Linked DNA regions of Homo sapiens. The protein of the gene in region 1 purifies or fractionates together with the protein of each later gene. This does not show direct contact. Each region holds a gene or a part of one and is shown on either strand. Other genes may lie near its edges.

The links. Proteins that work in one complex are often made in the same cells at the same time.
Region 2: the proteins of ITLN1 (region 1) and DNAJC12 purify together in Homo sapiens (affinity purification with mass spectrometry; 3 studies listed by BioGRID and IntAct, with this or other methods). This does not show direct contact.

Annotation. Positions count from the first base shown.
Region 1 is NC_000001.11:160,881,393-160,890,664, forward strand, and holds the start of ITLN1 (intelectin-1 precursor), read right to left. Parts: upstream 3,789-9,272; 5' UTR 3,669-3,788; intron 3,492-3,668; 5' UTR 3,486-3,491; coding exon 3,428-3,485; intron 2,135-3,427; coding exon 2,036-2,134; intron 813-2,035; coding exon 565-812; intron 1-564. UniProt on the Homo sapiens protein: Lectin that specifically recognizes microbial carbohydrate chains in a calcium-dependent manner.
Region 2 is NC_000010.11:67,796,169-67,800,188, forward strand, and holds the end of DNAJC12 (dnaJ homolog subfamily C member 12), read right to left. Parts: intron 1,043-4,020; coding exon 948-1,042; 3' UTR 501-947; downstream 1-500. UniProt on the Homo sapiens protein: Probable co-chaperone that participates in the proper folding of biopterin-dependent aromatic amino acid hydroxylases, which include phenylalanine-4-hydroxylase (PAH), tyrosine 3-monooxygenase (TH) and peripheral and neuronal tryptophan hydroxylases (TPH1 and TPH2).

The sequences.
Region 1 (9,272 bases):
ACTGTGAGAGCTCTGGACTCCAGATGAGCAGATGGCCAACCATACTCAGACACCCCACTCCCAGCCGATGATCCCACCACACCCAGGGCCCTAACAGCCTTGTTAGGAGGAAGTTGTGATTCAAAGTGTAAATTGGCTGGGTGTGGTGGCTCATGCCTATAATCCCAGCACTTTGGGAGACCAAGGCGGGCAGGTCACTTGAGGTCAGGAGTTCGAGACGAGCCTGGCCAACATGGTGAAACCCCATCTCTACTAAAAGTACAAAAATTCGCTGAGTATGGTAGTGGGCGCTTGTAGTCCCAGCTACTTTTGAGGCAGAGGATCACTTGAACCCAGGAGGCCGTGGTTGCTATGAGCCGAGATCACACCACTGCACTCCAACCTGGGCAACAGAGTAAGACTCCGTCTCAAGAAAAAAAAAAAAAAAAAAAAAGATATAAGTATTTCTCTCTTCTTCTCCAGCCCATCCCACACCCCTACCTTCCAGCCATCCCTCCTGCAGGCTTGTGGCCAGCCACACTCCACTCCTCACCCTCACCCGAGTGGGTAAGAAGTGGCACCAACCTTGTAGTCATCGCTCGTGGCCGCCTCTGCAGATCCAAAGGTGTTGTAGTTGGCCCAGTTGCCGTCCCCCTCTGGGTAGACTGCTTTGCTGCCCTGCTGACTGGACCAGCGATCGCCCACCGTGCACTTCCCACGCATGTCATTCTCGTGCACGCTGGCCACCAGGGTCCAGCCGCCACCCCCAGAGGTCATGTCACAGAAGGTCTGGTAGATAACACCATTCTCAGTGCGGAGAAAATACAGGCCATCTGTAGAGAGAACCAGCCCAGAGCCTCCCTGTCTGAGAGCTGAGGGTTCATTTCAGCCCCATGACAAGAAAGGCCCTAGGAACCAGAGACATGGCCTAAAGGCTCCTGTCCTGACTCACATCACTAAGTGCTCCCAGGGGTACTGGGGCCTCCCTGAGTTCAGAAGATCATGCTCCTGTAACTGAGGCAGAACATAGAATTGTATAAAATCCCAGTGACATTTTTCATAAAGTTAAACATGGAATTATTGTATGACCCAGCAATTCCACTGCAGGTCTATCCCCAAAAGAATTGAAAACAGGGCCTCAAGCTGATGCTTTTACACCAGTGTTCATTGCAGCATTAGTCACAAGAGCCAAATAGAAGAAACAATTCAAATATTCACCAACAGGTGAATGAATAAACAAAACATGGTGTGTGTGCATATATGTATCTGCAGTGGATAAAAGGGAATGAAATATCCATGCTACAGCATGGACAAACCCTCAAAACACTGTGCTAAGTGAAATAAGCCAGACACCAAAGGACAAATACCATATGACTCCAATTACATGAGGTAACTACACTAGGCAAATTCATGGAGATAGAAAGTAAAATGCAGCTACCAGAGACTGAGGGAAGAGAGTTATTGCTTAATAACTCCATGTTATTTTTTGTTTTGTTTTGTTTTTGTTTTTGTTTTTGAGATGGAGTCTCACTCTGTTGCCCAGGCTGGAGTGAAGTGGCACTATCTTGGCCCACTGCAACCTCTGCCTCCTGAGTTCAAGCGATCCTCCCACCTCAGCCTCCCAAGTAGCTGGAATTACAAACATGTACTCCACACCCAATTGATTTTTGTATTTTAGTAGAGACAGGGCCCCACCATGTTAGCCAAGCTGGTTTCAAACTCCTGGCCTCAACTGATCCACCCCTCTCAGCCTCCTAAAGTGCTGGGATTACAGGCCTGAGCCACCGCACCCGGCCCCTCCATGTTATTAAGTACAGAGTTTCTGTTTGGGGCACTGAAAAAGTTCTGCATATGGATAGCTGTGATGGTTGCACAACCTTGAAGGTAATTAATGCCACTGAATTGCACACTTAATGTTGCTTAAAATGGCAAATCTTATGTAAATTATAATATACATATACTTTACCATAATTTTTTAACTAAAAGACAAAAAGACTCCCAGAAGACACAATCCTGATACCCTGACTGAGCTCTGTTTGAATGTTTCATCACTCACCAAATGCACTAGGACATTCGTCTTTGATTTCCTTGCAGCTTCTGGGCAGAGATGGAGACGAAGAACAGGTCCATTCCTTGAAGTAAGTATTAGCCTCATCTAGGGAATACACAGGGTTTATTCTCATTCCCGGTTTGACACAAAACCTACCCTCTCCTATCACTAGTCCCACGCTCATTCCACCACTGTAGCAGAACCTCGCTGCCCGGGTGGTAAGGCCTGAGACAGCCAGTGTCATATCCACTCAGCCCATCAGTGTCACATCCACTCAGCCCATCGGCATCATATCCACTCAGCCCATCCGACCTGACAGCCAGCACAGGCTTAAAGTCTGCCTCCCGCCACAAGACCTGTCCTTGTGCTGGGTCCTGCCCTAAGCACTGAGTAATCAAAGACATTAAAGTTCCCCAGCAAGAGCTTGCCTCTAGAGGGAATTGCTAACAAGTCAACAGAAAATTGTATTGACAAGAATAAATGGTAGAAGAAAGGCAAACTCAAGAGAACAAAAGAAAGACTCTGAGGTAACAGTGGAGAATGGAAACGCCAGACAGTAAGCGGGGCAGTTGCCTGGGAGAAGAAGGCAAGACGGGTTGTCTCATGTCTTAGTCACAGAAGACCTTCCAGTCCAGGTGACATCTTAGCTTATTCTGAGAGAATAAACATGATTTATCAGTAGGAAGCCAATCCAAGGCAGGGAAAACAGCATATCCAAAGGCCTAGAGAAAAAAAAAAAAATACAGCGTAGTCCAGCTGTAGAACTACAAGCTGCTTAATATGGCTGAAACATGGGGTGTGAAGTAGGGAGTGGTGAGACTAATCTCTACTCCAAAAAGTCTGCAAACTATTCGAACAGTCTAGGGGAAAGCTGTGAGGTCAGAGGTGACTGACCTCAGTTTCCTCATACCTAAAACACAGTTAATAAACAGTGCTTTTGCAAAGATGAAGTAAGAAGATATTTCGAAACAGCCTTTTCTTTAAAAAAAAAATTTTTAGACGTGAAGAAAAATATAAATTTTAAAATGTCATTGTTATTCTTGTTGTAGAGAGGAAAACTGTGGAGAGAACATTCTCCAGGCACAAAGCAGACCATGTAGTTCCCATGGAAATCCCACAGCCAAGGCCACAGGAGTGGGCAGTGGCTGGAAGGTGACACAGTTCTTGCCACAGCCCCCTCAGGGCCACACAAAAGCACAGAGCCTGGACCCAGGACATGCCTCAAGCAATACCTTCACTGCCACAGGCCAGATTCCGCCAGAGACCAGAAATCGGCACTCAGTCTACATGCAAGCCAGCCGCTGTGCATCTCAAGGACATGCTCTGTGTCCTGGGAGAGACCAGGATCCCGGAAGTCATCCAGCTGAAGGAACTGCTGTCCCTAGCAGCGTGACTCACCTGTACTCCATCCTCTGGTGGTCGCTATGAGAAACAGCAGGAAGCTGAGTTGGTTCATTGTAATCTAAAGAAAGCAAGATGAAGGTCACCATCTTGGCCATCATTTTTCTCTACATCCCTGCCCCACCCCTGTCCAGTCTTACAAAGACTCCAAAACCCCTTGCCTTTTGTTTAAACTTCACACATCTCTGAGACCAAAAGCAGACCTAAGCTGAAAACAGGATTCCCCCAACTCACAGACCTTGTCTGAGTCTCAGCTGCACTTTCCTTGGGTACAGAGAGCTCCTTCACTCCCTCCCTCCACTGCGCCCTGGAGCTCAACAGAGTGCAGCTTTCTCCAAAAACGCTCCTGATGTGGAATGAGGTGCAGAAAGCTTTATGGAGGAAGCCCAGTGGGGCCAACCAAGGTTTCCAGCCTCACCCTCCCCTGGCACAATGCCCAGTGCAGGGGAGGCTTCTGGTTATCTCGGGGAGGTTATTTATACAGTGGAATTAACAGGTTCTAAAGAAAAAACCAATCCTAAGAATCACCTGCTAGCGTTGTTCCTGGATCTGGGGGTTTCATGGACCTGTGTCAAGTAGGAAGTAGACGAAGAGATTAACAAGAGTTGGTGTTGGTTTTGGGTTTTTGTGCCTTTCTTTCTTGCAAAATAAAAACTTTCTCTAAATTAAGCATCTGTTGGCTTGGCACATTGGCTCAAATCCCAATACTTTGGGAGGCCAAGGCAGAAGGATCACTTGAACTCAGGAGTTTGAGACCAGCCTGGGCAACATAGGGCAACCTCTTCTCTACTAAAAATAAAAGTAAAAAAATTAGCATGGCATGGTGGTACTTGCCTATAGTTTCAGGTGGGGCTGAGGCAAGGCAAAAGGGTAACTTAAGTCCCAGAGATAGAGGATTCAGTGAAATATGACCGTGCCACTGTACTTCAGCTTAGGTATCTCAAAATAAATAAATAAATGAAATTAATCATTGGCCATAATTATCAATTCATAGAAATAGAAAAAGGAAATTTTAACAAAATGGGAAAGTGATCATTTCTGAATAAATTGGTAAAAAGGAATGGAGGGGAAAGAGATACAAAACACACAAAAAAATACGAATAGAAAAGTTTTAAAAAATATATAAATCTTTAGTTTGAATAATTTAGTTTCACACAAAGACTCACTACTTTGTCTTTAATTTTGTCATTTTGCCACAAACGAGGGAAAATTTACTACAGGATTCATTTGAAACTGAATCAATACGAAACCTCTCTGCTGCTTCGAACCTCCTGTCTTATTCCTGCTCCTATGTCATGAAGTTCTCAAATGCTACCCTGCAGCTGTAATAGAATTACTCAGTTCTTCCCCAGTGATATCATACATTTAATACATAATGTCATTATAGCATTAATAATACTGCAACCTTTTCTTACAAAGATTGTGAATATCTTTTTTGTTAAGCTAATATTTCCTATTTGTTGGTTCAAAGTACTGATTTGCAAAAAATACTCACATATTGATAGAAGAAAATAAAATAGCACCCAAGAAGAAAAACTGCAAAAAAAAGTTATACTTTTGTAAATTTAAAATCTATTAGAAGCTATTTGCTCTGTGTATCTGGAAAATAATTAATTAAATAAAATTAAATGTATTAGAAACTAAATTAACTCATCAGTATAGGTAACAAAATGAACATACCCAGCTTTCATATTTACAAACAACAACCTCTTAGAAATAGAGGTCTCAGCCAGGCGCTGCGGCTTACACCTGTAATCCCAGCACTTTGAGGGGACGAGGGTGGCCAATCACTTGAGGTCAGGAGTTCAAGACCAGCCTGATCAACACGGTGAAACCGTGTCTCTACTAAAAATATAAAATTAGCTGGGCACGGTGTCAGGCGCCTGTAATCCAAGCTACTCGGGAGGCTGAGGCAGGAGAATTGCTTGAACCCGGGAGGCAGAGGTTGCAGTGAGCTGAGATCGCACCATTGCACTCCAGCCTGGGCAACAAGAGTGAAATTCCATCTCAAAAAAAAAAAAAAAAAATAGAGGTCTCTAAGTTTACAGTTCACAATAGTAAATACATGTATATAAAGTTAACACCAAGGGCCCAAGATCTAGAGAAAAAAATTAAACATCCCCTCAGTTGTTCATTACTGTGTGTAACTAACCACCTGAAAACTTTATGGCTTAATAAAACAGTAACATATTTGCAAAAATAAAAAAAGAAAATATACACTTATACTACTTTCTTTAGTTGATTCTAAGACACTTTTTTTGTATTTTGACATCTTTAATATCATTATGCATCTCATCCTTAATGGTACATGATGCCATCTAATAGACTGGGAAAACAGTACATCCATTTTAAGGACATTACCCCTTCTAACCATCATCATCCAATCAGTGATTGCGTCCCATTGATTCTACCCCTACTTCCTCTTGAATCTGTTCCCCACACAACTTCCTCCAAACCCCACTGCCCTGGACATTTATTTAGTTCAGTCTGGTTCCTTGTAGCTGTAACTAATAGAAACCCCATCTCAAAGTGGCTTTTCTAAAAAGTAAATCTATTACCTCATGAAATAGAAAATCGAGAGAGAGGGCAAGATCCAGGCTTGCTTGACAGCAGCTTCTCTTTATTTTATTTTATTTATTTATTTATGTTGAGACAGGGTCTCACTCTGTTGCCCAGGCTGGATGGAGTGCAGTGACACAATCTCAGCTTACTGCAGCCTCAACCTTCCAGGCTCAGGTGATCCTCCCACCTCAGCCTCCCAAGCACCTGGGAATACAGGCACACACCACCACACCCTGCTAACTTTTGTATTTTTGGTAGAAACGAGTTCTCACCATGTTGGCCAGGCTGGTCTCGAACTCCTAGGCACAAACAATCCTGCCTCAGCCTCCCAAAGTGCTGAGAGTATAGGTACGTATGTGACAGTATAGATGTGCATGAAGATAGAAGAGTGTGGAAGAAAGCCCCTCACCACCAACTCACTCCAGCCCCACATCTACATCTCCAGTGACTTGGAGAAGGTTTGTTGTAAAATTACACATACAGAGAAAGATATAAAACATTAAATGTGCAGTTTAATAAATTACAAGAAAGGCAAATACCTGTGTAATTATCATCCTAGCTAAGAAATGAAACTTTAGCAGCACCCAGAAGCTTCCCATATGCTGCTTCCAGATAACAGACCTCTCCCTTCCCAAAGGTAATTACTGGCCTGACTGTGATGGAAATCAGCACTTCCTTGTGCCCATACCACATTGTTCCAAATATTTTAGATTGATAAAATGTCTTGATATCCAGTAGAGCAAGGCTTCTCACTTTGCTCTTCTTTTTTGGTTATTCTTGGTCGTTTACCTCTACACATACACACACACACACACACACACACACACACACACACATGCACACACCCTTTAGGATTTTATTGGAATTACATTGAATCTATAGATCATTTAGAAATAATTTACGTCTTTAAAATATTGAGTGTGGCCTGTTTCTTCATTTATTTGTGTTTTTATTGCTTTTTCGTATCTTATAGCTTCCTTATAGGGATTTTGTGTATGATTTGCTATTTGTTCCTTAGTATTTGACTTTTTTTTTCTTTTTTTAGACAGGGTCTCACTCTGTCACCCAGGCAAGTGATTCTCCCACCTCAGCCTCCTAAGTAGCTGAGAACACAGGTAAATATCACCACGGCCAACTAATTGTTTTATTTTTTGTAGAGATGGGATCTCACTATGTTGCCCAAGCTGGTCTCAAACTCCTGGGCTCAAGCAATCCTCACACCCTTGGCCTTCCAAAGTGTTGGGATTACAGGCGTGAGCCACCATGCTGGCAGTGTTTGACATTTTTGATGCTATTATAAATGCCATATTTTTGAAATTTTATTTTCTAATTGTTTGATGCTTATATATAGAAATACAACTGATTTCACAAATATATATATATTTGTGAGATATATATATATTTGTAAGATATATATATATCTCAATGACAGCACAGGAAAGACAAAGTATCAAAATAAATATAAATTTTCAGCTTGAATAAATTTAGTTTTATGAAAAATAATATTTTTTCTTACTTTTCTCATTTTGCTACAAACCAATGAAAACACTCTTTTGGTGGGGGGTCATTCTAGAGTAGCACTGGCCCCCAGACTACATTTTGGAATCACTGATCCAGGACAAACTTCCTCTGATGCTTCAATACCTGCTTTGCCATTTCTGTCCCAGTGTCACTCCTCAATTTCCTGAGCATAAATGTCACTCATGCCTCTTCTCCCTCAACAATGGGATGGATCACTTCCTGCCCGGTGTTGCCACATCCCTTATGCCCATTATTATCTTAACACGATAACATGACCTTTTCACTGTTTACATGTTTCTCACAGCAGTTCTTAAGAAAAGGTTTATGAGGCACCATATTTGTTAAGCTAATACTTTATTTGTGGAGAGAAAATATTGAACTATATATTTTCAGATATATTAACAAAAGGAAATAGACTGTATCTAGGTCCAAGACAAATATTCGATTTTTTTTTTTTTTTTTTTTTTGAGACATGGTCTTGCTCTGTCACCCAGGCTGGGGTGCAGTGGTACAATCATGGCTAATTGCAGCCTTGACCTCCTGGGCTCAAGCGATACTCCCACCTCTGCCTCCTGAGTAGCTGAGACTACAGGCACATGCCACCACACCCAGATAATTTTCTAATTTTTTTTAGAGATGGGGTCTCACTATGTTCCCCAGGCTGGTCTCTAACTCCTGGGCTCAAGTGATTCTCCCACCTCATTCTCCCAAAGTGCTGGGATTATAGGTGTGAACCACTGTGCCCAGTCCAAATAAAATTTATGCTTCTTATAAAACTATGTCTAACACTTTCATATCTCTGATATTGAGTGCATCCTTCATTCAATGGCATATCATAGTTTGTATTTCATCTTGAGTGGTACATAAAACAATGGTGCATTTTATACCTTAGATTTGGTGAAAAAATGCTAGCTCTGACATTAGCATAGAGTTGGTACTCTGAAATGAGAACTCCCTGCAAGCCCATAGGCTTGAGCTCCAATCCAAGATCATGTACTAGACATGTGACATTGGGCAAACCACTTCATCCCTCTGGACTTCAGTTTTCATGCAGTAAAATGTGAATAACAAGGCCAGGTGCGGTGGCTCATGTCTGTAATCCCAGCACTTTGGGAGGCGAAGGCAGGCAAGTCACTTGAGGTCAGGAGTTCGAGACCAGCCTGGCCAACATGGTGAAACCCCATCTCTACCAAATAATATAAAAAGTAGGTGGCTGTGGTGGTGCGCAACTGTAATTCCAGCTACTTGGGAGGCTGAGGCAGGAGAATTGCTTGAACCCAGGAAGTGGAGGTTAGAGTGAGCTGAGATCTCGCCACTGTGATCCAGCCTGGACAATGCAGCAAGATTCCATCTCAAAAAATAAAAATAAAAATGTGAGTAACGAGCTCTACCTCACAGGACTGTTGTGAGGAGTGAAATGACAAGAGCAAAATGAGAATGTACATGAATATGTGAAAGGTGTGATTATCATTAAGAAAGATTATCTCAAAAACCTGGATTTCTCTTTACTACCACTGCCATCAGCAGCTCACCTCAGCTGGGAAGCCCCAAACTCAATCAACAGGTGTGTATAGCACCCATATTTTATTCTTCATGGATTTTTTACTTTCCTATTTGGCCTGTGCAAAAGCCCCCTTGCTTTACATAAGCCCTTCTGCTACATACTAAGGTATACTTACACACTGCATTGCTTATGTGAGGATTCAGAAGATATTTATTGAAAGACAGAATGATAAAATGTTTACAACTCCAAGAATAG
Region 2 (4,020 bases), on another chromosome or scaffold:
TGAGGCAGGAGAATCACTTGAACCCAAGGGACAGAGGTTGCAGTGAGCTGAGATCATGCTACTGCATTCCAGCCTGGGTGACAGAGTGAGACTCCATCTAAAAAATATATATATACATATATTTTTTTCCTCAAATAAATCATAACTTTTAAAATTAGGTTAGAAATATCTATTCAAATTATTTTTAAAATACCATCAAGGCTGGGCATGGTGTCTCATGCCTGTATTCTGAGCACTTTGGGAGGCCAAGATGGGAGGATCACTTGAGGCCAGGAGTACAAGACTAGCTTGGGCAACATAGCAAGACCTCACCTCTATAGAAAATAAAAAATTGGCCAGACATGGTGGCGTGTGCCTCTAGTCCCAGCTACTAGGGAGGCTGAGGTAAGAGGATAATTTGAGCACAGGAGTTTGAGGTTGTATTGAGCTATGATTATGCCACTGCATAGCCTGGGTGACAGAGCAAGACCCTAAAAAAAATTGAATTATAAATTCATTTATGAACTTTGGGAAAATTATTTATTTCTCCCCACGGGGTTCAGACAAGTAATTTCACATTTCATTGTAAGTCAAGGGTAAGAAAACATTTTTTGTACATCCATCACTAATAGAGATCACAGTATGTCAATGAAATATTTAAATACACTGTACAGAGATTGCTTTTTAATGGATTTCTATAAGTAGTATTAATAGGAAAAAGCATATAATACAATCTACTCTGTATCTAAGAGCTTTAATTTATTCAAATATTGGAAGAAATTCATCTTCTGAATTTTTCTTATTTAAAAAGCATTATGAGAACTGATTCAAGGATGGAGGAATCAATTAGTACTCAGCAATTCACAGACATGACATAAACATGACATTTTTAAGACATAAACAAAGACTGCATGTTGGCAGCATAGGGGACAGTCTTGCTCTTCCTCATTTTTTGAAGCAGAGATATTTCATATTTCATAGTTTCTGAACTTCCTCAGGAGTTCTGAGGGAGCATCCTTGGACCAGCGGAAACGAAGGTGCCAACCATTCACATCTGCAAAACCTTTAAAGGAAAGAAAGTAAATATTTAAAATCAGAAGTAGGAAAAGTCGATCTTGTTATAGTAAAACAGCTTGGGGATAATATTTCACTGCAGCAGGTACAATGTAAGGGTAAGACTTTGGTATGAATTATTAACATCTTAGAGAAATGGATTAACTTAAACAGACTGGAATTCTTATGAACACGAATTACAATTTATATGGATGATAAGACCTCACATGCTTAAATACTTAATAAGAGGAAATACATAGATGCCTCTGGTGGTGGGGAATTTGACAATTCACATGCAAAGAAATTTGAAACAAATTACACAGTTTTCAAAAACCTTTCAAAAGTTAAAAGTCAATGGCAAAAGGATCGCTTGAAATACAAGTACTATAATTGAATTCCATGGTAATAAGATTTTTTTTTAGTTATAATAAACAACATTGTTGAAAACCAGAGGAAAAGAAGGTAATTTTCCTTCCCTACTAGAAGTATGAATTAGCAAAACCCCTCTGGCAGGCAATTTGGCAATATTTATCAAACTCGTTAAAATGTATAAACCTTTGCCAGGCGCAGTGGCTCACGCCTGTAATCCCAGCACTTTGGGAGGCCAAGGCGGGCGGATCACGAGGTCAGGAGATCAAGACCATCCTGGCTAACACGGTGAAACCCCGTCTCTACTAAAAATACAAAAAATTAGCCGGGCGTGGTGGCGGGCGCCTGTACTCCCAGCTACTCGGGAGGCTGAGGCAGGAGAATGGCGTGAACCCGGCATGCGGAGGTTGCAGTGAGCCGAGATAGCGCCACTGCACTCAGGCCTGGGCGACAGAGCGAGATTCTGTCTCAGAAAAAAAAAAAAAAAAAGTATAAACCTTTGACCCAATAATTTTACTCCTTGAAATGTATCCTAAGGAAATAATAATGGATGCACCCAACGATTTAACTCTAAGGATGTTTATAATGATACCATTTATAAATTTTTTTTGCAAACCAAGAAACATTCTAAACTTTAGCAAATGAAAGCTGGTTAAAAGGTTTTGATATCGTCATTAACAATATCTTAATATTTACCATTATAGAAAAATGCTCACAGCATATTGCTAAGTGACAGTTAACAAAACTGTTTATATAGTATGATCTCATTCCTAAACTCATTATTTACATGAATATTTATGTGAAATTTTTTTAAGTCTAAAAAAAGAAGGCCCAGCATGGTGGCTCACGCTTGTAATCCTAGCACTTTGGGAGGCCGAGGCAGGTGCCTCTCTTGAGCTCAGGAGTTCGAGACCAGCATAGGCAACATGGCAAAATCCCGTCTCTACAAAAAAATACAAAAAATTAGGCGGGCGTGGTGGTATGTGCCCGTGGTCCCAGCTACTCAGGAGACTAAGACAAGAGGATTACTTGAGCCCCAGAGGGGGAGGTTGCAGTGAGCCGAGAGGGTGCCACTGCACTCAAGCCTGGGTAATAGAGTGACACTCTCTCAAAAAACAAACAGATAAGAAAAGGTACACCAAAATTAATAGTATTTATCCCTGGATTGTTACAATAGATGTGATTTTCCTTTTTTTTTTTTTTTTCCTTTTCTGAAACGGAGTTTCGCTCTTGTTGCCCAGGCTGGAGTGCAATGGCGCGATCTCAGCTCACCACAACCTCCGCCTCCCGGGTTCAAGCGATTCTCCTGCCTCAGCCTCCCGAGTGCTGGGATTACAGGCATGAGCCACCACACCCGGCTAATTTTTGTATTTTTAGTAGAATCGGGGTTTCTCAATGTTGGTCAGGCTGGTCTCAAATTCCTGACCTCAGGTGATCTGCCTGCCTCAGCCTCCCAAAGTGCTGGGATTACAGGCGTCAGCCACCGTGCCCGGCCAATTTTCATTTTTAATACTCTTTTTTGTTTATCTGTACTTTCTTATTTTTCTGCAATAAACATCTATGCTTTTCGTCTTTTTATGTTAATAATATTGCTAATGAAAAAGCAGGTTACAGAATAATATATAAAATACACTTCCATTGATATTTTAATATAGTATATAAATATGTAGTCAGAAAAAGCATATACAGAATAGTTAACAATGGTTATCTCAGAAAAACAGATTACACTGACACTTTTTAAAGAATTATTGGAGAAAACAAATCTGAAGAATTTTCATTTGGGGAAAAAGCAAAAAGGAAATTGTTTCTGATTGCTATAATTGTTCCTATAATTAAAACTTACTCACAAAATATGTACAGTATGATCCTTTTAGATATACTAACACAAATGAAAATATACCAAAATATCGATAATACATATTTCTCTAAATGATAAAATTATGAGTTATATGTTCTTCCTTTTGCTTGATTATATTTTCTCACATTTTATATAGTAAGTAAGTGTCATTTTTGTTTAAAAAGATGTAGTTTCTGGCCAGGTGCGGTGGCTCACGCCTGTGATCCCAGCACGTTGGGAGGCCGAGGCGGGCAGATCACAAGGTTGGGAATTCGAGACCAGCCTGACCAACATGGTGAAACCCCGTCTCTACTAAAAATACAAAAATTCGCTGGGCGTGGTAGCACACGCCTGTAATCCCAGCTACTCAGGAGGCTGAGGCAGGAGAATCACTTGAACCCAGGAGGCGGAGGTTGCAGTGAGCCAGGATCACGCCACTGCACTCCAGCCTGGGCGACAGAGCGAGACTGTCAAAAAAAAAAAAATGTAGTTTCTAGTTAGGGTTCCCGTAGAAATAGACATGCAGACAAGAACTTGAAACAGGTTGGGCACAGTGGCCCACACCTATAATCCCAGCACTTTGGGAGGCTGAGGCCAATGGATCACTTGACCTCAGGAGTTTGAGACCAGCCTGGGCAACATGGCGAAACCCCATCTCTATAAAAAATTAGCCGGATGTGGTGGTGCACACCTGCAGTCCCAGCCATTTGGGGGCGGAGGTGGGAGGATCATCTGAGCCTAGGAGGTCGAGGCTGCAGTGAGTCGTGATCACACCACTGCAC